Linked DNA regions of Homo sapiens. The protein of the gene in region 3 interacts with the protein of the main gene of each other region in a pairwise test. Each region holds a gene or a part of one and is shown on either strand. Other genes may lie near its edges. The genes, in order: NTAQ1, FXR2, PCBD1 and PSMA1.

The links.
Region 1: the proteins of PCBD1 (region 3) and NTAQ1 interact in binary tests that used the Homo sapiens proteins (3 or more experiments, as listed by UniProt).
Region 2: the proteins of PCBD1 (region 3) and FXR2 interact in binary tests that used the Homo sapiens proteins (3 or more experiments, as listed by UniProt).
Region 4: the proteins of PCBD1 (region 3) and PSMA1 interact in binary tests that used the Homo sapiens proteins (3 or more experiments, as listed by UniProt).

The regions. Positions count from the first base shown.
Region 1 is NC_000008.11:123,433,763-123,440,783, reverse strand, and holds part of NTAQ1 (protein N-terminal glutamine amidohydrolase), read right to left. Parts: intron 5,343-7,021; exon of another isoform or gene 5,272-5,342; coding exon of another isoform or gene 5,242-5,271; intron 4,332-5,241; coding exon 4,183-4,331; intron 3,575-4,182; coding exon 3,450-3,574; intron 2,651-3,449; coding exon of another isoform or gene 2,568-2,650; exon of another isoform or gene 2,455-2,567; intron 1-2,454. UniProt on the Homo sapiens protein: Mediates the side-chain deamidation of N-terminal glutamine residues to glutamate, an important step in N-end rule pathway of protein degradation.
Region 2 is NC_000017.11:7,611,879-7,619,450, forward strand, and holds the start of FXR2 (RNA-binding protein FXR2), read right to left. Parts: upstream 3,020-7,572; 5' UTR 2,655-3,019; coding exon 2,574-2,654; intron 2,234-2,573; exon of another isoform or gene 2,186-2,233; intron 1-2,185. UniProt on the Homo sapiens protein: mRNA-binding protein that acts as a regulator of mRNAs translation and/or stability, and which is required for adult hippocampal neurogenesis. Specifically binds to AU-rich elements (AREs) in the 3'-UTR of target mRNAs.
Region 3 is NC_000010.11:70,885,564-70,893,397, forward strand, and holds the start of PCBD1 (pterin-4-alpha-carbinolamine dehydratase), read right to left. Parts: upstream 3,003-7,834; 5' UTR 2,971-3,002; coding exon 2,968-2,970; intron 2,319-2,967; exon of another isoform or gene 2,290-2,318; intron 367-2,289; coding exon 235-366; intron 1-234. UniProt on the Homo sapiens protein: Involved in tetrahydrobiopterin biosynthesis. Seems to both prevent the formation of 7-pterins and accelerate the formation of quinonoid-BH2. Coactivator for HNF1A-dependent transcription.
Region 4 is NC_000011.10:14,510,375-14,517,395, forward strand, and holds part of PSMA1 (proteasome subunit alpha type-1), read right to left. Parts: intron 4,118-7,021; coding exon 4,029-4,117; coding exon of another isoform or gene 3,979-4,028; exon of another isoform or gene 3,536-3,978; intron 3,514-3,535; coding exon 3,443-3,513; intron 3,326-3,442; coding exon 3,196-3,325; intron 578-3,195; coding exon 498-577; intron 1-497. UniProt on the Homo sapiens protein: Component of the 20S core proteasome complex involved in the proteolytic degradation of most intracellular proteins. This complex plays numerous essential roles within the cell by associating with different regulatory particles.

The DNA.
Region 1 (7,021 bases), on a different chromosome or scaffold from region 3:
CACACCTGTAATCCCAGCACTTTGGGAGGCCGAGGTGGGCAGATCACTTGAGGTCAGAAGTTAAGAGAACAGCCTGGCCAACATGGTGAAACCCCATCTCTACTAAAAATACAAAAATTAGCTGGGTATGGTGGCACACCTCTCTAATTCCAGCTACTTAGGAGGCTGAGACAGGAGAATTGCTTGAACCTGGGAGTTGGAGGGTGTAATGAGCCAAGATCACGCCACTTCACTCCAGCCTGGGCAACAGAGCAAGGCTTTGTCTAAAAAAAAAAAAAAAAGAAGAAAGGAACGCTACTCTCAACCTTTACTCAGAAAGACGAAAAGCAGCCAGGCGTGGTGGCTCACGCCTATAATCCCAGCACTTTGGGAAGCTAAGAGGGGTGGATCACTTGAGGTCAGGAGTTCGAGACCAGCCTGGCCAACGTGGTGAAACCCCGTCTCTACTAAAAATACAAAAACTAGCCAGGTGTGGTAGTGGGTGCCTAGAATCCAAGCTACTTGGGAGGCTGAGGCAGGAGAATCGCTTGAATCCAGGAGGCAGAGGTTGTAGCAAGCCAAGATTGTGCCACTGCACTCCAGCCTGGGCAATAGAGCAAGACTCCGTCTCAAAAAAAAAAAAAAAAAAAAAAAAAAAGGAGTTAATCCTGGCCAGCGTGGTGGCTCATGCCTATAATCTCAGTATTTTGGGAGGCCAAGGTAGGAGCAATATACTGAGACCCTACCTTGATTAAAAAAAAAAAAGAGTCAATTCCATAACTAAATCCAACATACCCAATAATGCATGTATCTAAAACATGCATTAATTTAAAGTCTGTTTTCTTTTTTTTGAGACAGAGTCTCCCTCTGTCACCCAGGCTAGAGTGCAGTGGTGCAATTTTGGCTCATTGCGACCTCCACCTCCCAGATTCAAGCAATTCTCCTGCCTCAGCCTCCTGAGTAGCTGGGATTACAGGCGTGCACCACCACGCCTGGCTAATTTTTGGTTAATATGGGCCAGGCACAGTGGCTCACCCCTGTAATCCCAGCACTTTGGGAGGCCAAGGCAGAAGGATCACCTGAGGCCAAGAGTTCAAGACCAGCCTAGCCCACATGGCAAAACCTCATGTCTACTAAAAATATAAAAACTAACCAGGTGTGGCCGGCGCGGTGGCTCACGCCTGTAATCCCAGCACTTTGGGAGGCCGAGGCGGGCAGATCACGAGGTCAGGAGATCGAGACCATCCTGGCTAACACGGTAAGACCCCATCTCTACTAAAAATACAAAAAAAAAATTAGCCGGGTGTGGTGGCGGGCGCCTGTAGTCCCAGCTACTCAGGAGGCTGAGGCAGGAGAATGGCATGAACCCGGGAGGCGGAGCTTGCAGTGAGCTGACATCGCACCACTGCACTCCAGCGTGGGTGACAGAGTGAGACTCCGTCTCAAAAAAAAAAAAAAACTAGCCAGGTGTGATGGTGTATGCCTGTAATCCCAACTAATCCAGAGGCTGAGGCATGAAAATTGCTTGAACTCAGGAGATGGAGGTTGCAGTGAGCTGGGATCGTGCCACTGCACTCCAGCCTGGGCAACAAGAGTCTCAACAAAAAAAAAAGAAAGAAAGAAAATTGGGCTGGCAGTGCTCACCTCGGCAGCCCATATAGTAATTGGGCTGGCAAAAGCCCAGCACAAAACAGCATCCAATGACTAGTAGTCATCAAAACAAAAGGAATTGCCCCAGTTGGACCAGGGCTGACAAGGGGTTCACTAAATGCCTGCGATGCACTAGGTTCTGTCTTAGGTGCTCACATCTCAAGGGGAAACAGGTAGCTGCTAAAGGCACACTGTGGCCAGACCAGGCCCTGTAGAGCAGGTTGCCATAGATGCTAAGGCAGACCCCTCGAGCCCTCTCCTTACCAGGGAGCTTCCCCAGTTCTCACACTGAGGCCAGGAAGCAGCTCTGTGTACTGATAAGCAATTCCAATATAATTTTTTAAATTATGAGAGCTTTTCATAGAGAGCCTCAAAAATCAGAGTTTGAACCCTCTCTTAGTGTTCAGTCCCCTCAAATATGCCAAATGTATATTTTACTTTCTTCCGTTAAACTATTTTTTTCTTTTTCTTTTTTTTTTTTTGAGATGGAATCTTGCTCTTGTCACTCAGGCTGGAGTGCAGTGGTGCGATCTCGGCTCACTGCAACCTCTGCCTCCCGGTTCAAGCAATTACCCGGTTCAAGTAATTCTCCTGTCTCAGTCTCCCAAGGAGCTGGGACTTCAGGCACACACCACCACACCCGGCTAATTTTTGTATTTTTAGTAGAGACGGAGTTTCACCACATTGGTCAGGCTAGTCTCGAACTCCTGACCTCAGGTGGTCCACCCACCTCAGCCTCCCAAAGTGCTGGGATTACAGGCATAAGCCACCACGCTCAGACCCTTGTTGAAGTACTAACACTACTGCCCTATTTTTCTGACATGCTGCAGAGCTCACAGAGCACTTTCACACAGACTGTATTATCCAGGTGTTGGGATGATCTCACCCCTAAGTGGGAATGTTGTGAATTACTTACAAACGTAAATAATACTTCAAACTCATATGAATGCCAAACAATAGTAATAGGGTGAAGGACCCTTTATCTTCTTAAATGTCAGGAAATTATCAACTGGATTGATGCCTAAAAGCACATAAATGAGACAAGTGGTACAATAAAACCTGCTAGCGCTCACCTCCCTCTAATGCAGATTTTATTATATAGCCAAAGTGACATTTCACACATCATAAGGATGCAATGGGGATTTCTTTCACCACAGCACAAAACCCTACCATGGCAAGGTGCTACTAGTCCCGCTGTTAAATGACACAAGCATGCGAGTATCCTGATGTTCAGTGTCCCCGCAGTAGCTACATCCAATAATCCAGCAGTTTGCAGGTGCCCTGGTTCTGATCCTTAACACCCTTCCTCTCCCACATGTTCTTATGCCTTCCAGTCCTATTCTCTGTGCCTTCATTTCTGAATCTAATACACACACAGAAGTAGTATTTCCTATGACCTCCTTATCATTCATGGAATTTTTTGTTTTTTGTTTTTTGTTTTTTTTTTTTTTTGAGATGGAGTCTCACTCTGTCACCCAGGCTGGAATGCAGTGGCCCGATCTCAGCTCACTGCAAGCTCTGCCTCCCAGGTTCGCACCATTCTCCTGCCTCAGCCTCCCTAGTAGCTGGGACTACAGGTGCCTGTCACCACACCTGGCTAATTTTTTGTATTTTTAGTAGAGACAGGGTTTCACCGTGTTAGCCAGGATGGTGTCTATCTCCTGACCTCGTGATCCGCCCACCTCGGCCTCCCAAAGTGCTGGGATTCACTCATGGAGTTTTATTCAAAGAACAACCTGACTTTTGTCCTCCGTTAAGGAAAAATGCTGATGTGTATGTGATCAATCAGAACCCCCATCTGAGAAGGCATCTTGGCTCACCTCCAGTCTCAATGCAGGGATATGGCGGCGGAGGCTCTCTCCAATTCCCACTGGAGTCTTTCATGTGAGATCGGTCAGAAGCAAAGTTCTTCAAATATGAATCTGCACGGATCACTCTAAATTTCCTGCAGAAAAATCAATATACACTCACATTAGGGAGATGTCATGTTTGAAATTCTAACTCCATTTTTATATCGACTCATTTCCTATGACATGCACAAAACTACTCATGCATTTCTGTATGGTTAGTAATACAGGCAACTTTACTACCTATTAGAGAAGCATAGGAAATGATCAACCAAACCCCGAAACAGAAAGGCAAAGGCACAAAAATATATCTGGTTGCCTCGATTTACTCGATTTGTGTATCAAGGGCAATGGGCATGATTTTCTGATGCTGCCCTCACAGCCCTCTCAATGGTGACAGCACGAGGTATCCCCACAAAAACAAAAAGAATATAAGAAAAATCCCCAACCCGCTTGAAATTAAATGTCTGAGATCTCATCACACAAAATTTTAAAAGAATGACAACCTTTCATATGATAGATAACTTTTAAAGCTTTAAAACATTTTGAATCTCCTGTGTTGCAAATACATCATTCTTAAACATCAACTCAATGGTGATGTCAGACGAGATCTTTACAAAACAATTGTCAAAAAAAAAAAGAACCTCTGTGGAATCGTCAAATTCTTACTTCAGAAAATAAGTAAATCCATCTTGAATGTCCTCACCTCCTAAACTGTGGGTGAATGTCATCATCAGACTTAAAGGCATCTTCTACATAAGTGTCAAAGAGGCAGGGAAATGGCAAGACAGTATCGAGATCATAAATGAAGTTCTGTCCTCCACTTGAAACATGAAGCAAAACAACATGGTAATCCTAAAAGTAAAAGTTGCTGAAGTTAACCAAGTTACTTCATAATGATGAAATCCCAGTATTCAGACACATACCTTATCACTAAAAAGGATATAGGACTGCTACAGCCCTCCTTATAATAGCAAAATAGAATAAAGCAAACACAACACCCTGAAAACATGAAAACAGACTAAATGTCCACAGATAGGGAAATGGTTAAATAATGGAAATGTTCATAGTCATTAAATGCACATCCTCTGAAACTGCAATTTTACCTCTAGGAAACTTTTTTTTTTTTTTTTTTTTTGAGATGGAGTCTTACTCTCGTCACCCAGGTTGGAGTGCAGTGGCATGATCTCAGCTCACTGCAACCTCCACCTGCCGGGTTCAAGCAATTCTCTTGCCTCAGCCTCCCGAGTAGCTGGGATTACAAGCGCGCACCACGATGCCCAGCTAATTTTTTGTATTTTTAGTAGAGATAGGGTTTCATCATGCTGGCAAGGCTGGTCTTGAACCCCTGACCTCAGGCGATCCACCCGCCTCAGTCTCCAAAAGTGCTAGGATTACAGGTGTGAGCCACGGTGCCTGGCCCCACATATTTTTTTTAATTGAGACAGAGTCTTGCTCTATCACCCAGGCTGGCGTGCAGTGGCATAATCTCAGCTCACTGCAACCTCCGCCTCCTGGGTTCAAGCGATTCTCCTGCCTCAGCCTCCTGAGTAGCTGGGACTACAGACACCCGCCACCACGCCCAGCTAATTTTTGTATTTTTAGTAGAGATGGTGTTTCACCATGTTGGCCAGGCTGGTCTCCAACTTCTGGCCTCAAGTGATCCCCCCGCCTCAGCCTCCCAAAGTCCTGGAATTACAGGTGTGAGCCACAGTGCCGGCCCCACCTGCTATTTGTTAAAAGCTATCTGTATATAAAGACATACGTGCGCATTCAGAAGTACATTTGCATGCATGTGAATGCAGAGGAAAACGTCTGCAAGGATCTGCTCCAAACTAGTAACAAAGGAGGCTTCTGGGGGTCAGCCTGGAGAGGAGAAGGAGGACTTTAATTTCTAGTTTGGAACCACTTTTGCAATTAAAAGAAAGGAAAAACTATTTTTTAAAAAAAGAAGTTAGCCAAGCTTTCATCTGTAGCCACTAAGGGAGAAAGAAAAAGACAGCTTTTCCCACACAGCTCTGTCACAGTGTGGATGTTAATTCTCACCCTCACTCTCAGACTCAAGGTACTGCCCAACACCAGCGATGAGCTGAAAGGGATTTCAGGGAGGTGATCAAGGGACATGAGCAATGTGGTGCTCTGAGTTCTTCCAAAGAAAAACGCTCTCATAGAGAACAGCACTGTGAAATCAAAGCAACCTAGCAACATTAGTAATACCAACTTATATTTCTACAATATCTTAGAGTTTAAAAGGCACTTTCTTTCTCAAATATCATTCTACTTGAGCCCTGTATAAATCCTGAGGTAAGAACAATACTTAAGACTAGGGATGCTGTGCCTTTAAAAGCCTGAGTGCTGCCTTTGGCTCTAAGTCTGTCTTAGCAAAACAGAAAGATTCAAAAATGAATGCCTATTCTCTGGACTTCCCCAGATACATCCTATCCTCCACGCCCCCAAACAGTCCACCACTGCCTCCCAATGGGTCTGCTCATGTCATTCCCCTCCATCTGCAGCAACCTTCTCTACCTCTTTCTACCACACAAGCTCCAGCTAAAGGCTTTCTTCCCACGAATCAATTTTTTATCTTCTCCCACCCCCTGCCAGAATCTCCGCCTTATCCAAATTCTGTTTCTCTCTTAACATCTTCTAATTCATATTACAGGTTTGTTGTTGTTGTTGTTTTGAGACAGAGTCTCTCTCTGTCACCCAGGCTGGAGCACAGTGGCACAATCCCAGCTCACTGCAACCTCCACCTCCGGGGTTCGAGTGATTTTCCCACCTCAGCCTCCCGAGTAGCTGGGATTACAGGCGCGCCACCACACCCAGCTAATTTTTGTATTTTTAGTAGAGATGGGGTTTCACCATGTTGACCAGGCTGGTCTCGAACTCCTGGCCTCAAGTGATCTCCCTGCCTCTGCCTCCCAAAGTGCTGGGATTATGGGTGTGAGCCACTGTGCCCAGTCCCATATCAGTTTTTTTGAACCACACATTATCTATTCTATGTGAAAGACTGTGCTGCTGAACTGCAGATGCAAAGATGAAAAAGATAAGTTCTCACCCTCAAGAAGTTCCCAGAGAAGTGAATGGGAACCAGGTAAACTGCTGCAGGATATTGTGGAGAACAGAGAACATCAGAGGCAGGAGAGCAATGCAGGCAGGAGAGCAATGCAGGCAGGAGCAGGTAAGCGCCTGGTTCCAATCTCAGCCCCTCCCCTCGGCAACCTCACTCTGCTCTTTTATAAAATGGAGATAACTGGAGTATCTAACTCCAGGGTGTCCAATCTTTTGGCTTCCCTGGGCCACACTGGAAGAAGAATTGTCTTGGGCCACACATAAAATACACTAACACTAACGATTGCTGATAAGCTAAAAAAAAAAAAAATCACAAAAAAATTTCATAATGTTTTAAGAAAGTTTACAAATTTGTGTTGGGCTGCATTTAAAGCTGTCTTGGGCCACATGCAGCCCATAGGCTGCAGGTTAGACAAGCTTGGTCTACCTCATAGTGCTGCTAGAAGCATTAGTGTGTAAATGATCAACCCTTT
Region 2 (7,572 bases), on a different chromosome or scaffold from region 3:
GAATTTAGGGATTTGTGGTTTTTAACTCAGGAACAGGGCAGAAAATGCTAACCTGCCCAGATCCACATTACCACATTACCTGGCTTTCAGCTCAACCCCAAACTCTACTCTCTGAATCACAGTATCCTGGTCCCCATCTATTCAAGTCTATCACTGCCACAGCACACAGGAGAAAGGGAAAAGATTCAGAGAGACTTTCTGCTGGACACTTATATGTGGGACAGAAAACGTGTCCCTTCCCAGCCATCTCATACAGTTCATTTGAACTGGATACCAATCTTTCTCAGCTGTGCAGGGCTCCTACGCTTCCTAGAACAAAGCAAACATCATATCTTGATCTTGGACTCAACTTAAGAATCACTTTTCTTGGAACTCAGAATTTGGGGGTGGTAAGGACCCAGATGAAGGAAAAGATACCAAGGTAAACAGGGAGGGCCACTTTAGGAAGCTATTTCAACAAAGGTAATGCAAGTTTGGGGAAAAGGATATGAGAGACAAATGTGCTCTATCAAAAGCAGAAAGGAATTAGAGACTTTTGCCAAAGAAAACAGAAATGCTATGGAGGCAGGCTAGAAGAAAAAGTCCCAAGAGTTAGGCAAGTATGCACAAAATGACAAAAAGAGATCAGCAGGGAGCTTCCTTCAGCTAGACAGGGAATAAGGTGATTCCTGGGGATTACACAGGAATACAGAAATATTAGGAGAAAAAGCTAAAAACTTGAATTGAGAAGGTAAGTTAGACATGGGTACCCACAGTCACCGCAGAGAAATAAATCTGATGAGGGAAGTAAGGCAAAAATGGGTAAGTATGAAGAGTGAGTAAAAAATGACTACAATGGCCGGGCGCGGTGGCTCACGCCTGTAATCCCAGCACTTTGGGAGGCCGAAGCAGGTGGATCACTAGGTCAGGAGATCGAGACCATCCTGGCTAACACAGTGAAACCCCGTCTCTACTAAAAATACAAAAAAATAGCCGGGCATGGTGGTGGGCACCTGTAGTCCCAGCTACTCGGGAGGCTGAGGCAGGAGAATGGCGCGAACCAGGGAGGCGGAGCTTGCAGTGAGCCAAGATCGCACCACTGCACTCCAAGCCTGGGCAACAGGGCGAGACTCCATCTCAAAAAAAAAAAAAAAAAAAAAAAAAATGACTACAATGCACTTAGCAACTGAAGTACAGGCAGAAACCACCCAAGAGAAATTACAAGACCCTCTGCAGTTATAGAAAAATATGACTTAGAGAAGGAGTCAAAGAAAGACATTTCCAAGGGCATGAGAAACTAGAGAGGACTACAGTGGGGGAAAAAGGCCTGAGGGGAACTGAAGGAAAGGGGGAAGGGGGATCCACTCTTAACAAGTGATGCCATGGGAAGGTATCTCTTCCCCAGCTCCCCAGGGTGAAATCAAAGAATGAGACAGAAATCAGGAGAGTCTCTAGGACAATTCCAGGCATCAAATCCAAGAGGTTCAGAATACCAACAGTCACACAAAGAAAAACTCTTGGGAGGCAAGAAAGGGCTCTCTCTGGCTTAATCTAAATGGGAAAAAAATGTCCTAGAAAATAGATTCAGAGCAGATAAGGAAGGTGGTATTATAAGGAGTTCTAAGGAACCAAATCCTGGGCAAAGGGGGAGGTGAAATAAGGAAGGGTCTTTGAAAGATGATCCCGTCTTCCAAAAAAGGTTGTCAGATTCCCGAACTGGGATAGTTGGCCAAGAGTCTTCAAGAAGTGGAAATCTTAAGATAAACAGAAGGGAACCTCATAAGCTTCCTTTCAGAGATCCTTTTAGAGATTATGACTATGAAGCTTACATGCCTCAAGACGAAGAAACTATATGAATGACCTGAAGGTATCTGAGGTCTAAGTGAGACCTCAAATCCATTCCTGAGTAGAATGGTAGAGCAGTGGGTCTTGAGATCAAGGTGTGGTGGGGAGAGAGACTTGCGAAAGATGCCACCTTATGGCTGGCTGGGAAGCAACTTGACTGATCCAACCCAGGGTTCCTGAGGTCAAAGATGCCAAACGTCGTAAATGGATCTGACCATTTCTCCTTGGCTTGGGAACCGGAATATAAGATGAAAGTGGGGTGAGTGTTCCAGAGCCAGTAGGCAGAGGCCTCTCTGAGGAAGATGAAAGGATCTTTTACGGGACAGAGGGCCTTCCCAAAGGGACCGTGTGGAAGAAAGACAATTCTCCATGTGCTTGGATCGTGGGGAAGATGTGATTAAGGTCTAAGGTATGTCTTCCACCAGACAACGGACACAGTCAATTAGAAGCTGGGTAAAGGGGTCTCTCCTGCGGAGCGGGGAGCGCCAAGCCAGGGACAATAATGGCCTGAAGTTCATTCTCCCGGAGATGGGGGTAGAAGCAGGTGCAGGTGCCTTAGAGGGGTCAAAAATAAGAGGAACAGGGTTCACTCTAAGCGGTCTCCCAGGGAAGGCTGCGGGTTGGAGCAAGGGTCCAAGATTCTAAGGGCCAGGACTCAGCTCCAGAAGCTCGATCCCGCCCCACGCGTTCCTGCTCCGGCCAGGGGAGGGGGCTAAGGACCGGCGTCCCCAGTCGGCGCGCCGTCTCACCTTGTAGAAGGCCCCGTTGGAGCCGCGCACCTCGACGGGCAGTCCCGGCTCCACATCCCCCCCAGAGGCCAGGCCGCCCATGGCGCCGCCACCGCCTCCGACTCCCCCGGCGGCGGCTGCAGCAGCAGTCTGAGTGCGGGCCGGGCCAGGCCCCCGGCGTCTCCCCGGAGGAGGAGCCGGAGGGGGAGCCGCGGGGGGCGGGAGCCGGGCCGGCCCCACGGCGGCCCTGCCACAGCCAACGAGCAGGGGGCCGGGGCCGGGCCGCTCCCCGTCCGCCGCCGCCGCCTTGGTCTCCGCCACCGTGAGGGAAACGGCCGCCGCCGCCGCTGCCTTCGTCACCTCAGCTTCCGCCCGCCGCCGCCCCCGCTGCTGCCTCAGTCCCGGGACCCGCTGCTGCCGCTGCCGCTCCACAGCCTCCACCTCCCCCTGCCACCGCCGCCTACTGCGCAGGCGCACCGGGCACCCGCCCGCTGCGCGCGGGGCCCCGAGGGCCACCGCGCAGGCGTCAAGGTTAGAGCCCCAGCTAGCGCCAGCTAGCGCATCGGGGCTTCCACATTCCCTTTCACTCTCTCACTCCCCCTCCTGGTCGCTTGCTAGCGCTTGCGCAGAACAAGATTAGCCTTCTTTCTTCACCGCTCCACCGCCCAGCCACCCCGTCTCTTCCTTTCCCCGCCCCACAACACTGAGAACCAACCAATCAGGGGGAGGGAGGGGCCGGGCTCGCTCAGTCCGATTGGGCGGCGTCCGCACAGTCACACAGCGCTCAGGCCACACCCACTCCGCCGCCGCTGGCCCCACCGGGCTTGGACAAGTTAGGGATGGGCATGCGCCTGAACGACTGCTTGGTCACTTTCCCCACCTTTGTCTTTCTTGGTGCGCACGCTCCAAAAAGAAAAAAAAAAGAAGAGGAGTCGCCGCAAGGAAAAAGGTGCTTGGTGCGCACGCGCTGAGCTTTACCCTCTTCGCGTATGCATCGCCGATATTTTAAGAATCTGTAACTCTCTACTGTAGTAGATTTAACAGTCATGGCTCTTACCTTGAAGAGATTGTGATACAATGAAAGTTTTGGCCGGGCGCGGTGGCTCACGCCTGTAATCCCAGCGCTCTGGGAGGCCGAGGCAGGTGGATCACCTGAGGTCCTCGGATCACCTGAGGTCAGGGGTTCGAGACCAGCGTGGCCAAAATGGTGAAACCCACCCCCCCCCCCACCCCGCATCTAATAAAATACAAAAATTAGCCGGGCGTGGTGACACGCGCCTGTAATCCCAGATACTCGGGAGGCTGAGGCAGGAGACTACCTTGAACCTGGGAGGCAGAAGTTGCAGTGAGCCAAGATCGCACCATTGCACTCCAGCCTGGGCGACAGAGCAAGACTCAGTCTCAAAAAAAAAAAAAAAAGAAAGAAAGAATAGAAAGAAAGCTTTAAGAATAGTTTCAGACGGGCGCTGTGGCTCACTCCTGTAATCCCAGCACTTTAGGAGGCTCAGGCGGTGGATCACTTGAGCCCAAAAGTTTGACACCAGCCTCAACAGGGCGAAACCCTGTTTCTACTAAAAATACAAAAATTAGGACGGGCGCGGTGGCTCAGGCCTGTAATCCCAGCACTTTGGGAGGCCGAGATCACGGGCGGGCGGATCACGAGGTCAGGAGATGGAGACCATTCTGGCCAACATGGTGAAACCTCGTCTCTACTAAAATACAAAAAATTAGCCGTGGTAGTTCCAGCTACTCGGAAGGAGTCCCAGCTACTCAGGAGGCTGAGGCAGGAGAATCGCTTGAACCTAGGAAGGTGGAGGTTGCAGTGAGTGGATATCATGCCACCACACTCCAGCCTGGGCAATGAGTGAAATTTCTTCTTTAAAAATAATAATAATGGCAGGGCGCGGTGGCTCATGCCTATAATCCCAACACTTTGGGAGGCCGAGACGGGCGGATCACGAGGTCAGGAGATCGAGACCATCCTGGCTAACACGGTGAAACCCCATCTCAACTAAAAATACAAAAAAAAAAAAAAAAAAAAAAAATTAGCTGGGCGTGGTGGCGGGCGCCTGTAGTCCCAGCTACTCGGGAGGCTGAGGCAGGAGAATGGCGTGAACCCAGGAGGCGGAGGTTGCAGTGAGCGGAGATCGTGCCACTGCACTCCAGCTGGGGCGACAGAGCGAGACTCCATCTCAACAACAACAACAACAAATAATAATAATAGTGGCCCGGCGCGGTGGCTCACGCCTGTAATCCCAGCACTTTGGGAGGCCAAGATGGGTGGATCACAAGGTCAGGAGTTCAAGACCAGCCTGGCCAACATGGTGAAACCCCATCTCTACTAAAAATACAAAAATTAGCTGGGCATGGTGGTGCATGCCTGTAAACCCAGCTACTTGGGAGGCTGAGGCAAGAGAATTGCTTGAACCTGGGAGGCAGAGGTTGCAGTGAGCCCAGATTGTGCCATTGCACTCCAGCCTGGGCAAAAAGAGCGACACTCTGTCTCAAAAAATAGTAATAATAATAATAAATAATGCTGGGGAAATTCAAAATAGGAAAAACTGTCATGAAATAAGGGTAGTAGCAGGAAAACTTCACATTCTGGGAGTTGTCCTATGTTCCATCCACTTCTTGGATTAGAGTAAATGGTAATGCCAATCATGGAAGAGATAACATAGGAGATAAAGGTTTAGAAAATAAGGTGATGAATTTACTTTTATTTTTTTTTTGCCCTTTGAGCTTAGCCACCACATCTGGCTAATTTTTAAATTTTTGTATTTAATGGTGGAGACAAACAGACTTGGAAGTCTCTGACTTCATAGTGTGATGGCAGAAGAAAGACACTGGAAAAATTATTAATATTTATAATAATTATTAATATTGCAACCATGGCCAGGCACAGGGCTCATGCCTGTAATCCCAGCACTTTGGGAGGCTGAGGCGGGTGGATCACCTGAGGTCACCTGAGGTCAGGAGTTCAAGACCAGTCTGGTGAAATTCCATCTCTACTAAAAATACAAAAATTAGCTGGGCATGGTGGCACGCGCTTGTAGTCCCAGCTACTCGGGAGACTGAGGCAGGAGAATCGCTTGCACCCAGGAGGCAGAGGTTGCAGTGAGCCAAGATTGTGCCACTGCACTCCAGCCTGGGTGACAGAGCGAGACTCCATCTCAAAAAATTAAAATAAAAAACAAAAATAAATAAAGGCGATAGAAGAAAGGAAAATAAAGTATAAGAAAATTAAAGGATTAGTCCATGGGATACAACATCTGAATAACCAGAATTCCAGAAAGTGATAACAGAAATAATTATCTGGAAAGGATAAAATCATCTAAAATCAATAGTAATAATTATTCAACAAAATTTTCCAAGGCCAGGTGTGGTGGCTCATGCCTGTAATCCTGGCACTTTGCGAGGCTGAAGCAGGCAGATCACTTGAGCTCGGGCGTTCAGGAGCAGCCTGGGCAACATGGCGAAACCCTTTCTCTACCAAAACTACAAAAATTAGCTGGGTGCGGCGGCTCACGCCTGTAATCCCAGCACTTTGGGATGCCGAGGTGGGTGGATCATCTGAGGTCAGGAGTTTGAGACCAGCCTGGCCAACATGGTGAAACCCCATCTCTACTAAAAATATAAAAATTAGCCACACGTGGTAGCGTGTGCCTGTAATCCCAACTACTCAGGAAGCTGAGGGAGGAGAATCTCTTGAACTTGGGAGGCTGAAGTTGCAGTGAGCCGAGATCACACCACTGCACTACATACAGCCTGGGTGACAGAGAAAGATTCTGTCTCAAAAAAAAAAATTATTTCCAACCTCGTTTCCTATACCTAGCCACACTCTCAATATTTTTTTGTTGTTGAGATAGAGTCTTACTCTGCCACTCAGACTGGAGTGCAGTGGTATGATCTCGGCTCACTGCAACCTCTGCCTCCCAGGTTCCAGTGATTCTCTTGCCTCAGCCTCCTGAGTAGCTGTGATTATAGGTGCCCACTGCCACAGCTGGCTAGGTTTGTTTTTTTTGTTTTTGTTTTTGTTTTTGTTTTTTTTGTATTTTTAGTAAAGACGGGGTTTCACCACGTTGGCCAGGCTGGTCTCAAACTCCTCACCTCAGGTGGGTCACCCACCTCGGCTGCCCAAAGTGTTGGGATTATAGGCATGAGCCACTGCGCCCGGCCCACACTCTCAATTAAGTGCAGTAATAGAACAGACATTTTCAGGCTTTTAAGTTCCCAACAAATTTACCTCCCGGTACTCTTTCTCAAAAAGCTCCATCAAAATAAGAAGAGTAAACATAGAAAGAGGAAACACAGGTTCCAGGAAACAGGACGTCAACACAAGAGAGAGGCAAAGGGGATCCCCAGGATAAAGGTGAAGGGAGATCCCAATTGCGCAGCCTCAAGATCGCCTCTCTGGACTGGAGCAGGTCTAAGAGCTTTTTGAGAAAGTTCTTCAAAATGACGTAGATTGAAATCCCTAAGTGTTTGTATATCCTTATAAGAGATTAATTAAGGGAGAATTTGGGGATAAATTAGAGTACACAGGAAACTAAGCAAACAGAGAGGACAAGGCAGTTATTAATTCCAGGGAAAACAAAAATGGTACAGGAAAGAAAAAGAATTGTAACTATCCACATGGATCATACGTGTATTCGTATAATCATAATAATCATAATAATGAGGCCAGGCATGGTGGCTCACACCTGTAATCCCAGCATTTTGGGAGGCCGAGGTGGGCAGATCACCTGAGGTCAGGAGTTCAAGACCAGCCTGACCAACATGGAGAAACTCCATCTCTACTAAAAATACAAAATTAGCCAGGTGTGGTGGCACATGCCTGTAATCCCAGCTACTCGGGAGGCTGAAGCAGGAGAATTGCTTGAACCTAGCAGGCAGAGGTTGCAGTGAGCCAAGATCGCGCCATTGCACTCCAGCCTGGGCATTAAGGGTGAAACTCCATCTCAAAAAAAAAAAAAAATCATAATAATGTAAATGCTAAGGCTGGTGCGGTGGCTCATGCCTG
Region 3 (7,834 bases):
GTTCCAGGAAGGGAGAGCCCAAGACACATCCTCCTATGGCTCTCCAATCCCCAAAGATGATACTTTCTGAGTTAGACAGGAAAATTAATTTCCCCACTGGCACAGTGCCCAAATAACTGGATGAGTGTGGTGTCTGAGAGTCTTGGCTAACAAGACGTGAAGGGAGAGAACATGCTTTGTAAGGTGACCCCATCAGCCCGTCTCAGAAAACTCTGTCCCACCCTGGTGCCATACCCTGTTGAAGTCTTTGAAATGAAACTGCTTGAAGATGGCATCACGGCCTTCCAGCTCATTCCACCCCACAGCCCTCAGGTTTGGCAGCAGCTGGTCCCTCTCCTCAGCGCTCAGCCTGTGTGCTTTGCCAGCCTAGAAGAGGGAAAAAAACAGAGGCCCAAGGGCATTTCTCTTTATAGGTCAAAACAGAGGGGCTCCAACCTTTAGGGGAACTTAGCTTCCACTGGCTGCTTTGGACGTGGGTGACCAAAGGGCAGCAGGTCTTTGAGCAATAGGCTGGGAGGCCTCAAGGGTGGCACCCTGCCCAGGAGGTGGGGTCCAGGCTCGTCTGCCGATAGGCCCTCAGGTCTTGGGTTTTAACACTCCACACACACACAAGGGAAATCACAAAAGCAATGTAATTCATATGACGGGGACAGAGAAGCACTCTTCCCCCACCCTGCCCTCAAAGCCTTACGGACCTTCCCTCCATGAGATTATTACATCAGTGAGGGCGTAAAAGCAAAATAAATCCCAGATGCAAATATGTTACTCCACAACCTCTCAGGAAGAGTACCCATGACTCTCCCCCCTTCCTTTTCCTATTATGTACTTCATCATATGCACCCCACGTCCCTACCGTAACTTTCACGTGTATTGAAGAGGAAACAGGCCTAGAGAGGGGAAACGACTTGTCTGCTGTTCTTTCCCGCCCACCCCTAGCCAGTGATGGCGCAGTGTTGTCTGTGTGTCAGCATTGCTGGGGCTGGACGAAGGAGCTACATTTAAAATAAGTGTCCATCCCATTCTTAGCCACACTGCAGCTGACCGCCGTTGGCACTACCTCTAGTAGGTCCTCAGTCATGCTCCCAGGCAGCCTCTGGTCCTGAGCCGCCAGGGCTAGGTTTCTCTGGTTTTCCGTCTGCTTTTCTGGCTGGTTGGGAAGCTCAGGCCAAAGTGGAAGGAACTTGGCCAAAGGCAGCTGGCAAACCTAGTGCCCCATCCTATTTACCTAATGTGCGAAGTGCCCTCAAGGCAGCCCAAATTGGCACAATTCAGGCCATGAGTGGAACCTCAGAGAAAGCAAGGAAGCAAGGGTCAGTTTCATCCTAGGAGGATCCAGGTCTAGGAGCTTAACAGATCCCAGAACCTAGGCTTCTAGAGTAGCACCACCCCAGGGCAGAAATAGAGTGCTGAATTGAAAAGATACCCTTAGGGGTGGGGAGGGAATGTGAGGGAGGTTGATTTAGCTTTTATGAGGCAGCCTGCAGACTGGACACCATGTGTTGATTGGCAGGAGTTTTGAGACCCGCTTTCACCATTTACCAGCCAGGTGGCTGTACCTCTCTTGGCAGAACCTCCACCTCCACAGATCATCATGAGGTGCCAATGGGACACTTTAGGAAACTCCACTGCTATAAAGCAAATGTCATCTGCATTACAAAAAAAAAACTTCCTAAGGCAAGCAGGCTTGTGATGGGCCTGGTAGCATTTGGGGTAGCTGAAGCATCGCAGTGCTTTCCTAAGTCCGTCTTTTTTCCCTGCTGTTTTCCCTCCTGAAAACGTGAGCTCTCTCTGGACTGATGTAGCTTGGCCCCTCTCTTCCCCTCGGCTCTGGATGACTATAGGGATTGAATGGCAGCAGCGATTTGCATCATCTGCCCAGTAGGTAGGTCTCTACTCCAGAGCTGGCCTTCTCCCCGTGGCTGACCGCCTGGTCCGTGTATCTAGACAACCAGAAGTCAGCCAAAGCATCAGAGCCCACTGTTTACTTCCTTGGCTCTTAAAGGGGTGGGTGAGTCCAGGTGAGCTCTTAGGAGGCTTCCCTTTCTCGGTAGAGCCTTCTGGAACCCCCCAGGTCGCACAGCCTGCGGCTGAACTGACAAACCTTCCAGGTGCCGGCTCTGGAGACAGAGAGGGGGACGCTGCCCCGTTTGCCTCCTCTGGCGAGGTGTGGGGAGTGGTTACCGATTTCCCAAGCCTGCATCTCTGGGACCTCAGCGCCCCTCACAAACAGCCCCACTCATCCTCCCTCCCCCAAGTCCCTCTCCTATCAAAAGGCCCTCCCAGTCTTGCCTGCTCCGAAGGCCTGTGGACCAGAAATGGTCTGATGAAGCTCGCGAGCTTACAGCAGAGCAAGGGCCCCGCCCCCGCCCCCGCCCCGGGGGTGGGTGGGGGAAGCTCACGGGAGGAGGGCTGCTCCAGCGCCACCAAGCCCCCGTGGCCTGGCACGGGCCTCAAGCCGGCGCGGGGAGTGGCTCTGGGGCCAGCATACCGGCGCAGAGCGTGAGTCCCAGGCAGACCCCGTACCCAGAGTGCCAGCGGGAAGGGGCAGCGGACAGGCACGCACACGAGCGCGCAAACTCAGCCTCCCTCTCGCTCCCACCCCAGTATAAAGCAGAATCGGGCCACCAAGGGGACGAGATCCGTGGACTCCTCCACGACTGTCTTCCCCGGCCCAGGAAGGTCGTAGGCCCCGCCCCCGGAAGGGTCCCGGAACAAGCACTGGCCGGGGTCAGGGCAGGCCTGGCCTCCCAACTGGGTGGGATTCGAACCCGCCACCGCCCCTCTCAGGGCTTCAGCTTCCCCTCCCCGCCGCCAGCGACAGAGAGCCGGGCAGAGACCCCACTTTCGGACCCCGGCGGCTCCGCAGGGGACTCGAAAAGACTTTCCCCCGCCCCTTCCCGCTCCCACCTCGCCCGCGGCTGCCCCGGCCCCGCTGCCCCGATCGCGGCCGCGCACCCCTGGACTCACCATGGCGCGGGCGGCAGCAGGTGGCCAGCGGAGAGGGCAGGCGGCGGCCGGGCGCGCAGGCTGCCGTCCCGGGGCGGGGCCGCGCTCGGGCCGCCCTCCGGTAATGATTAACGTCCCCAGCCAGGGACGCGCTCGGCCTGCTTGCTTCCAGCACTTTCCTCGCTGCTCAGAGCCATCCTCCGTGCTTGTTTCAGGGAGCTAGGGTGAAGCATGAGGGCTCCAAATGCCCGCTTCTGGGTTGGAATCCCACCCCGCCGCTTACAGCTGGGTGGCCCTGGGCGCCAGAATACCTATTTTTTTCTTTATAAAAATCTCTTATTTGGATATAATTGACATGCAATAAATTGCACATATTCAACGTGTACAATTTGATAAATTTTAATGTTTCCCTCGTGAGACCATCACCGAGATCAACATTATGAACATATCATCATCCCTGCAAGTTTTCCCTTGCCCTTTGGTAACCCCTTCCTCCCGAAACCACCTGGCCAGGCAAGCACTGATGTACTTTAGGTCACTATAAATTAGTTTGCATTTTCTAGAATTTTATGTAAATGGACCATAGAGTATATACTAGGCAGGATAACTGTTTTGGGGTTCAGCCATGTTGTTGCCTATATCAATGGTTTCTTCCTTTTATGGCTAAGTAAAATTTATTTTATAGTATTGCATTGTACAGATAGACTACAATTTGTTTAGCGATTCACTATTGGACATTTGCGTTGTTTACCTTTTGGCTATTACAAATAAAGCTGCTGCGAATATGGTGCACAAATCTTCGAAAGTACGTATGTTTTAATTTTCCTTGAGTAAACACTTAGGAATGGAATGCCTGGGTCATGTGGTAGGTGGACTTTTATAACTTATTAGGAAACTGCCATACTGTTTTGCAAAATGGTTGTATCATTTTATATTCCTAGCAGCAGTGTATGAAGGTTGCAGTTCTCTGTCCTCACCAACACTTGATATAGTCAGCCTTTTAAATTTTAATTGGTGTGTAGCAGTATCTCATTGTGGTTTTGAGTTTCCTTGATTAGTAATTGTATTGAATGTCTTTTCATGTACTTATTTGCTAAGGATAAGTTTTTTTTATTGAATAGCATGTTTGAATTTCCTGCCCATTAAAAAAGAAATTGGGTTGTCTTCTTATCGAGTTTTGAGGGTGTTTTATTCTGGATATAAGGACATGATCAGGCAGTGATTTGCAAATATTTTCTTTGCATTATCTTATGGTGCCTTTCAAAGAGCAAACGTTCTTAATTTTGATGAAATCCAATATATCAAATGTTTCTTTTATGGATTTCTATTTTGATGTTGTACACATAGAAATCTTGGCCTAACCCAAGATCAAAAGTTTTCTCCTATGTTTTATAGCTTTTGGTTTTACATTTAGTCTGTGATCCACTTTGAGTAAATATTTTTATATGCTTCAAGTTATAGATCCAGATGCACTTTTGCACATGGCGACTCAGTTATTCCTTTCTCCACTGAGTTGTCTTTGCACCTTTGTAAAATATCAATTGACTGTATACATGTGGGTTTATTTCTGAGCCCTTTCTTCTGTTCCATTGATCTGTTTGTCTGTCATGACAGAACACTACCTTGTCTTGATTATTATAGCTTTATAATAAGTCTTAGAGTCAGATTAGAAAAGTCCTCTCACATTTCACATTTTTCTATTAACTTTTATTCTTGTGCTCCACTTTTATTCCCCGCCCCCCACCACCGCCCATAGCAGCCTCTCTAATGTGTTAATGTGTATTTTTGTTTGCACAGGTTCTTGCAAAATGTGTGGTGTTGTTTCGTCTATGTGTATTTTTAAATTTATGTAAATGGTATTATGTAAATATATTACATTTCTCAGTCTGTTTCTTACAAAACAGAGTATTTAGTGGAAAATTAAGATCTACCCATGTTGCTATATGTATATTCAATCTGTAGCTTTTAACTGCAGCCTAGTATTTTGTAATGAGAATCTGCCATGGGTTTCTTGTTCTATCAGTGATGGACACTCAGGTTCCCTTCAACTTTCTGCTGCTACCACCACCTCCCAAGCCCGTGAGCATGTGGGCACACAAACACATACGTACACAGAGTTAAACAACAATGCTGCTGCAGTGAACATCTCTAATTGCTCCCTGGGCTGTGGGCAGTTTCTTAGGCAACTTAAGTATATCCATACCCTATAAATCCAGCAATTCCCCCCATGGGTGTGTATCTCAAAATAGTTCTAGATGATGTCCAGGATGGGGACACCAGTCCTCATTCTCTCCTGCATGGTGTGAGGGGGTACTATTTCCATATGCATCTTACACATACATACTCACACTTCCCATTAGCCAGCTTTTTATTTTTTTGTCAGGCTAATAGCTATAAAATGAGAGCTTGTTGTGATGCAGGATTTTTCTTGACCCCTTTGCTGAGGTTGCAGCAGGGAGTGCCTTATCTACTCAGCTTGCCAGGCCCCATCTGGCTTGTGTTACAGCCCATGGCTCACAAGGCCACTGCGACTGTATGCTCAGCCCCTGGCGGGAGGGAGCATGTGACCGAGTGAATGCAGGGTCCAGCCAGCTGCACTGAGCCATGACACAGGAACAGGCTCTGTGTGGGGCCCACAGCCAGATCAGGTGTGTCACCCCAAGGAGACTGTGGCAGCACCCAGGCAGGGGTGCCTGAAGCCCCAGAGAGGGGTGTTACAGTGTGCTAAATAGCTCTTTTATCTCCACCATCTGCAGCCTGATGGACAGCGGCATGTTGGCAGCTCAGGCGGCCCCTTTCTCCACTCTGGCCCGTGGCTCCTGGACCAGCTTGGCCCTGCTGCAGCTTCTGTTCTGTGGGGCAGCTGCCCTCCACCAGTGAGGGTAGAGGGCCAGCGTTACAGCCTTTGTGGGTGCCCACATTTGGTGGGTCCTGAGCTCTTGTTCTGCATCCAAGAAGAATGAGGTCATGCTGACAGTTGAAGGGTGATGAGGATGGAGAATTTTATTGACGATGAAACAGCTCTCAGTGGAGAGGGATTGAGAAGGTGGGGTTGTCTATCTCAGTGTGGCTGAGTCTAGGGGGTTTTATAGGCACAGGATTGGGGAGGGGCGGGCTGTAGGTAGTATTAGAAAAGGCAACATTTGATTGGTTAAAAAGCATTATTCAGAAAGAACCAATCAGGAAAGGGTGGGCAAACAGGAACAGAAGTTCTCACCCTGGTTTGAGGGGTTTCATCCCAAACCAGCAGTCCAGGCTGTTTTTGGCTTGAAGGTGGGGTTTCACTGGGGACCCACCCCCATCTGCCTAGGAAATTGTCTGCCTCCTGCCGCTTTCAATTGTTTTACTCTACATTGTTTTCTGATGACTAATGATTTTGAGAACCTCTTCATATGCTTGTTACCATTTGGGGGTTACTATTTGTGAATTGCTTTTTAATATCCTTTGCCAATTTTTGAGAATTTTTAGTGCTCTCTTTTTTTAGTTGGTTTGTGGGTGTTTATATAAAATCTAGACATTAATTGCTTGTCAGTTTTGATATTGCAAATATCTCCTCTCATTCTGCCATCTGTATACTGACTTCTTGCATGAGATCCATGATGTCTGTGGGCAGAAATCTTATATTTTGGTGTAATAAGATTTATCTTTTTTCCCTCTGCCTTATAATTTTGTGCATTTGAAAATTTATTTGATAAGTCCTCTCCCCACCCTGCTACAAAAATATACTCCCTTTTCTTTTGTTAACTTTATAGTTAGATAGATTTAAGACCTAAATGTGAAAGGTCCCTTTTGGTATGTAGTGTTAGGCAGGATGTTAGTCTCCAAAGATAGCCCCCAATGAACCATGACTCCCAATATTCACACCCTGCATAGTTCTCACCCATGTTGAATCTGGGATGGCCCAGTATGACCAGTCAAATATGGCAGAAATGTCACCATGTGACTTTGTTTTGATACAGTGTCTTGCTCTGTCGCCCAGGCTGGAGTGCAGTGGTGCAATCATAGCTCATTGCAGCCTTGACCTCCTGGGCTCAAGTGATCCTCCTGCCTCAGCTCCCCCAGGTAGTCACCATGCCTGGATAATGTTTTAAATTTTTTACAGAGACAGGACATTTCTATGTTGCCAGGCTGGTCTCAAATTCTTGGGCTCAAATGTTGGGCCTTGGCCTCCCAAGTGTGGGATTCCAGGTGTGAGCCACCACATCCAGCTATAACTTCTAAGACTAAGCCAAAGAAACTCTGGGAACTGTTAATCATTCTCCAGCCACGTGAGTGAGACTCTTGGATGCTCAGACCTGCCAAACCTTCAGATGACTTCAGCCCCAGGAGACATCTGACTTCAATCCCACGTGAGGCCCCAAGTGAGACCAGTCAACCCGTGGAAGCATGAGAAATCATAATTTTTGTTTTAAGCCACTCAGCATGATGATTTGTTCTGCAGCAATAGGAACAAATGGCAGGAACAAAATTTGGTGCCTGAAAGTGGAATGTTGCTATAAAAGCAACCTAAAATGTGTAGCGTTAGGTTGAGAATGGGTGGTGAGAGACGGTGGAAGGAAAGACTTAAGGACAGCAAGAAGTATTCACCTTCCATCCAGGAGGCAGAAAGCCTTGCTATCATACTTAACAATGAGAAAAGACTGCATGCACTACAAAGTCATCACTTTTCTTGAGCTCACCAGGGAGGTGAGCTCACAGGGCAACCAAGTATCCTGAATTCCAAGGGGGCAGGTCCCTCCAAGGAGAGGCAGGATGTGCAGTCTGGCTCACTTGGGCAGTGCTTGGAGGAAGGGGCAGCCTCCATTAAAGTGGGTAAGAAGAAAGAAATCAGTTCAGTTTTAACAAATTGTTGGAAGCCAGGTGTGGGCTGGCGTGTCGGTCTGAGACA
Region 4 (7,021 bases), on a different chromosome or scaffold from region 3:
CACCTACCTACATCCAATTGGTCATTCTTTCTCCTTTTAACGCTTTTTTATTTTTTACATAGCATTTATCTTCTTCTAATATACTATATAATGTACTTATGTATATACTGTCTATCTTTCCCTACTAGGATGTACGTTCCATGAAGAAAAAGTTATTTGTTGTGTTTACTGTATTTTCAATGCTTAGAAAGTGCCTGCACATGGTAGGTGCTCAATATATATATATTTTTGTTAACTAAATAATACCAAGATATGCCAATCTGCTGAAAATAATGAAGGACATTTTGCATGAAATTTACTGGTTTTACTGCTTTGTACCAAAAAGAAATGTTTAAAAAATAAAATTGGATTACTTAGCAAATAGCTTAAAGGAAAAGAATCTGCCAAGACAATCATATCCCAAATTACAGAATGTTGCATATATACTCCATTACATTTATGCAATAAAGGTTTAAACTGTAACGTTAATATCTACAATTGGAAAAGACAATACTTACCTTTGTAGTCAGGTCCTGTTCTGCAGGAAGCGTCTCTCTTAAGGCACGCAGACCATGTTTAACTAGTTCATTTAAATTACCTATATGTAATAAATTAACAATTATTTCTTAATTTCATTGTTATGCTAGGCTTCTGTTATTTATCAAATCTACAGTCTCAAATTGTGGTTTTTAGTTACACACTAAATTTATCACAGTAAAAACAGCCAAGTTTAATGCTAGTCATATAATCTTTTAATAGCATTCTATGACATTGCTGATTCTTATTTTATTTAATGAGAGGACTCATGATTTTTGTTACGATTTTGATCTTCTCTTTTGCTAGGTCAAATCAAAATCCCGACTATAAATTATACAACTCCAAGTTTTGTAGAATGTGTTCTGTAGAATCCTAGTCCTTATATTTGCTCATTGTAAAAAGGAATCTCCAACTTATTCTATGTGGCCAGTATTACCGATAACAAGAATAAAAACATCACAAGAAAATAAAACTACAGACCCAATATAGATGCAAAAACAAAACAAAACAAAACAAAACCCTCAACAAAAACTACAAACGGAACCTGGCAACACATTAAAAAAATTATATACCATATACAAGTGAGATTTATCCCAAGAATAAGTTAGTTTAACAACTGAAAGTCAGTGTAATTTTCAGTTACACTGAAGGAAGGGAGAAAACCTGCATAACCACCCCAAGAGATGCATAAAAAGCACGTGATAAAACCTAAAATGTTTGCATAATAAAAACACAAAACAAACTAGTAATTGAAAGGAACCTCTTCAGTCTGATAGAGGGCATCTACAAAAAGCTGACAGGTAACATCAATCTTAGCAGTGAATGACTAAAACCTTTTCCCTTAAGTTTAGGAACAAAAAAAAGAAGGTTTGTTCATGCAACTTATATTCATCATTGTACCAGAGGTTCCAGCCACGGCAGTTAGAAAGGAGAAAGTAAAACTATCTCTATTCCCAGACAACATGATCTTAGGAATCTATAAAAAAATGACTAGAACTAATAAACAAGTTCAGCAAGATTGCAGGATATAAGATTGATATATAAAAATCAACTGTATTTCTATATAGTTGCAATGAATAATATGCAATGAAATTAAGAAAACAATTCTGTTCACAACAGCACCAAAAATAATAAAATACTTTAAGACAAATATGATTTGTACACTGAAAACTACAAAACATCAGTGAAAGAATTAAATACCTGGTTGGGTGTGGTGGCTCACGCCTGTAATCCCAGCACTTTGGGAGGCCCAGTTGGGCGGATCGCCTGAGGTCGGGAGTTTGAGACCAGCCTGACCAACATGGAGAAACCCCGTCTCTACTAAAAATACAAAATTAGCCAGGCGTGGTGGCGCATGCCTGCAATCCCAGCTACTCAGGAGGCTGAGGCAGGAGAATTGCTTGAACCTGGGAGGCAGAGGTTGCAATAAGCCGAGATCGCGCCATTGCACTCCAGCCTGGGCAAAAACAGTGAAACCCCGTCTCAGGAAAAAAAAAAAAAGAATTAAATACCTAAATAAATGAAGATATTCCATGTTCATGGATCAGATGCTTTGTATCATCAAAGTAGCAGTACTCCCCAAAATTATCTATAGATTTATTGCAATCTTTAGGAATTTCCTATCCAGGTTGAAATGTGCTAGGCAGAGGGTGCTGATATGAGCAGTTCTGAACCAAACTTTGGACACTGAGTTTCTAATGAGCTTCTCTGGGCAGAAACATCACATACATATTGCTGCAAGTGTACTCTGTGACTCCTTATGGGAAGGAAAGAGCATAAGGAAGCCTGCACATAGATTCCTCTGGACTGTATTTTTCCTTAATGATCCACCTATGTACTGTTATTTTATTGTTAAAAGTCTTACCTGGGAGTACAACTATATGCTGTGCGCTTTAAGTCCTAGCATATCTCCAAATTTAGGGGTAACCTTGGGGACCCCAAACCATTTACCATAATTTACAATGTTAAACTTTAAGCCAGCATTTACCAAGCTTATTTGTCCAAGGAATCCTCTTTTCCCAAAGTTAAACCTATTGTCATCCCACAAGTTTGCTTTGAGTAATGTCAATTAAACTATTTTTCTCTGCATTCACTAAACCCCAAATATTTCCTCCAAAGAATGCTTTGTCACCAGAAAACAGATAAGATGACAAAGAGAAATGTAAAACCCGATACCCTCCTTCCAATGCAAAGCAAAGCACTTGAAAACCTGTCCTGTCATAACATCTTACCTCTTTTACCTTCTTCTCCCTCAACTACACTGCCTTTTTATTTCTTGTTTATGGACTACTAATGCAGAAATGTCTGTGTGGCTTAAAATAACAAAAGACTCACAGAAAACTAAAAGTGAACAGAGCTTACAACTGGCAGGTAGTACAGTGGTTCTCCACTCTCCACTCCACAGGGCACACTTCTGACCAAATGAATCAAGAATTTTCAAGGTTGGGAACACATTTATATTTTGAAAAAGTTCTACTCGTGCTTGAAACTACTGTGGTAACCAGAAGTTAAGATTAGTATATGTGACAGAAACAATAAACTCTTCATGGGCATAATTTTTTTTAAAAAAATTCTTTCTATAAGACTTACAGTTTTATGCATTTAGGATACTATGTTTATTTACTATATAGACTGGAAAAGGCAAAAAAAAAAAAAAAAAAAAGCAAGGCTGTCACTTACACTCCATAAATTCAGACATATGTCTCTCCAAGTAAGTACGAGCTGATTGGGAACGGGCTCCAATGGACATGGCTCTGCAGTCAAAATAGTTAGCAGATGGACAGGTTTGGAAAATGTGAGGGCCCATATCCTACAAATAGAAATAAATACACCACATAATTATTTACTTTGGTTGAACTAAAAATTATAAAAATTTCTAGTTAATTAAAAAAAATCATTAACATATAACAATATTCAATGAACTTACATCATAACCAGCAATAAGGAGACCAACACCATATGGTCTCCGGCCATATCGTTGTGTTGGTATCTGGGTCTCTTAGACTGGTTAACGAGCTTGTTTTAACAAGGAATGAAGTACTGTCTTTATTTTCAAATTATACATTATTAACAAAGGTCTCTGGCTTATTCTTTAATTGTTGCATAATCCACCAGAGAAATAATGCAATAGGACACTATTTCTTTGGCCTAATATAAAATGTTTGACTTTCTACCGAACCTAAGAAAGAGTGCCAGCAAAATAATTTCTTCCCATCTAAAACCTGATTTGTTTTGGATACAAGGGGTCTAGGATTTCTTGGGACATCTAGAACCATTAAGAAACTTTAAATCCCCTCTAAAAAGATGCTTAGATGATTTTCCTGAAGTTGGGCTTATTTGTGTCTAGCAAATATAAATTGCTTATAAAGGCTAATGAAAGAGCAATCCAATTTGTTGTTTTAAAGTTTTCACAATCTTACCTATGTCATATTATTATTATATTCCTAATAATTAACACAAGTATCAAAACCCTTCAAAGTTCATATCCATAAATGCTAACATAAAAAGGATACTGCTTCCAATTAGAGATACAAGACGAGACACAGGCAGTGGTCTATCGAATACAAATCTGGAATCCAAACACTCCTGACGCATAAAATTACTAAAAAAGAAACAAAAAAAGTTTAGTAATTTCAAATTATAGACAACTATTCCAATCTAAATTGTTTGATTTCACTTCAAATTCTTCCAAGCGTTTACATGGATAACATCCATATAAGAAAAACAGAAGGTAAGAAAGACATGCCTGCAAGGGTGCGTTTTTGTGCTAAACTCTGGAGCCACATAAGGTTTTTAAAAAAGACTGAAACATTTTTTAGCTCTAGAAAATCTTTGTATCAGAGCACTTATGGAACAGAGAAGAGAAGGCTGAACAAAAGAAAAACAGCAACCTCTCTTCTCTTATCCTTCCCACTGTCAGCAAGCTTGTCGTAATTCTAGATCTCGAACCAGCAAAAAGATTATCTACTCTGTCCTTTTTTCTTGAAAGCAGACTAACATTTCTCCAAAAGAGCAAATATAAGAAATGGAAAACACAGCAGGGGGGATCTTTACGTGTTTCTGCCACTGTTACTTCTATTCATAAGAAGCACTCTAGAGGAGATACTGGACACTAGCCGCTGAGTCTCACTGTTAAATCTGATGAAATTCAAGCAAGGTTAACATTGGGGAGAAGAGAATTTATGCCTATAAATAAGATAAACAAGAAATGGATATGCTCCTTTTTCTCAATGTTGCTTTGTCCAGTATATGCGTATGTCACATCTGATCATCACATGGTTGACTACAGGAACCAAGCTATTTGTTCAGTACTTATATTTAAGTCCATTTCCCAATGCTGCCTAAAAGTATACTGCCCAATATGGCAGGCAATAATCACATGTGGCTATGGAGCTCTTGAAAAGTAGCTAGACTGAATTGAGATGTACACCAAGTACAAAATAACATACCAAATTTCAAAGACTTAGTACCTAAAAACGTGCAATAACTCATTAATAAAGTTTTTATATTGATTATGTGTTGGCATGGCAATATTTTATAGATTGGGTTAAATAAAATGTTTGATAATATAATACATTTTCCATTTTGAAGAGTAGGTGGAAACCCTTAAGGCTGTCATTATATTGCTGACTTAGAGCAAGGGACTGGCTGAGTAAATTGAAATTCTTTTTTTTTTTTTTTAATACTGAGTTTCGCTCTTGTTGCCCAGGCTGGAGTGCAATGGCATGATCTCAGCTCACTGCAACCTCTGCCTCCTGGGTTCAAGCGATTCTCTTGCCTCAGCCTCCCAAGTAGCTGGGATTACAGGTGCCTGCCACCACGTTCAGCTAATTTTTTTATTTTTAGTAGAGACAGGGTTTCACCATGTTGGCCAGGCTGGTCTTGAACTCCGGACCTCAGGTGATCCACCCGCTTCAGCCTCCCAGAGTGCTGGGATTACAGGCATGAGACACCATGCTCAGCCTGAAATTCTTAAACCATAGCATTACTATTTACACTGTTTTTGCTGCTGCTGTTGTTTTAAGAATAGGGTCTCACTCGGCTAGGTGCTGTGGCTCACGCCTGTAATCCCAGCACTTTGGGAGGCCGAGGCAGGTGGATCACGAGGTCAGGAGCTCTAGACCAGCCTGGCCAATATGGTGAAACCTCGTCTCTACTAAAAATGCAAAAATTAGCCGGGTGTGGTGGCACATGCTTGTAGTCCCAGCTACTCGGGAGGCTGAGGCAGAAGAATTCCTTGAACTCTGGAGGCGGAGGTTGCAGTGAGCCGAGATCATACCACTGCACTCTAGCCTGGGCGACAGCGCGAGACTCCGTCTCAAAAAAAAAAAAAAGAATAGGGTCTCACTCTGTTGCCTACGCTAGAGTACAGTGGCACTATCATAGCTCACTGCAACCTTGAAATCCTAGGCTCAAGCAATCCTCCCACCTCAGCCTTTTGAGTAGCTAGGACAACAGGTGTGTGCCACCACACCCAGCTAAGTTTTAAAATTTTTTGTAGAGATGGGGATTCACTATGTTGCCCTGGTCTCAAATTCTTGACCTTAAGCTTCTCAAAGAGCTAGAATTATAGGTAGGAGCCACTGTGCCAGGCCCACCCTTATAATTTATATTCTTTCTTTCCTAATCAAATCACAAATTTACAAGATTAGTTTTAGCTAACTACCTGCCATCCACAACACACATACTCACATAATACCTGAAAGGCTCTGTGTTAGTGGTTTACAGTAGGCAATTTAAAATATTTAAAAATAGGCTGGGTGCAGTGGCTCACACCTATAATCCCAGCACTTTGGGAGGCTGAGGTGGGCAGATTACCTGAGGTCAGGAGTTCAAGACTAGCCTGGCCAACATGGCGAAACCCCGTCTCTACTAAAAATACAAAAATTAGCCAGGCGTGGTGGCGGGTGCCTGTAATCCCAGCTACTCGGGAGGCTGAGGCAGGAGAATCGCTTGAACCTGGGAGGTAGAGGTTGCAGTGAGCTGAGATCACACCACTGCACTCCAGCCTGGGTGAGAGTGAGACTCCATCTCAAAAAAATAAATAAATAACATTTAAAAATAGCCTTGATAAAGAAAACACTGGAAAAAATTCAGTGTTTAGGTATTTAGCCAAATCTCAGATACTAAGTGGTGAAGGTGAGAACTCAATATGTGCAATTTCAAAGCCCTATCTCTTCATTTATGTATTGCCTTTTAACCATAAATAATCTGTCTCTTCTAGACTCTCACAGAAATTTTTCTGTTATATTATAGATAAACTACATTTGAGTTTATAGATAAACTTGCCTTCAAGTTCCCTTAAGACAAGATCCATGTCTGAGTCACTTATGTATACCCTGCAGTATCCAGTATTGAGCATTGCAAAAAATAAATGTCTAATAAATACTGATGTATTGAAGAAAACAAGCACAAAGAAAACAAGTGTGGTTCAGCTTGTCCTTAGAAACCAGACAAAAGTATCACGTTCTTCTTAGACATAACAGGGTCTCAAACGATATACATT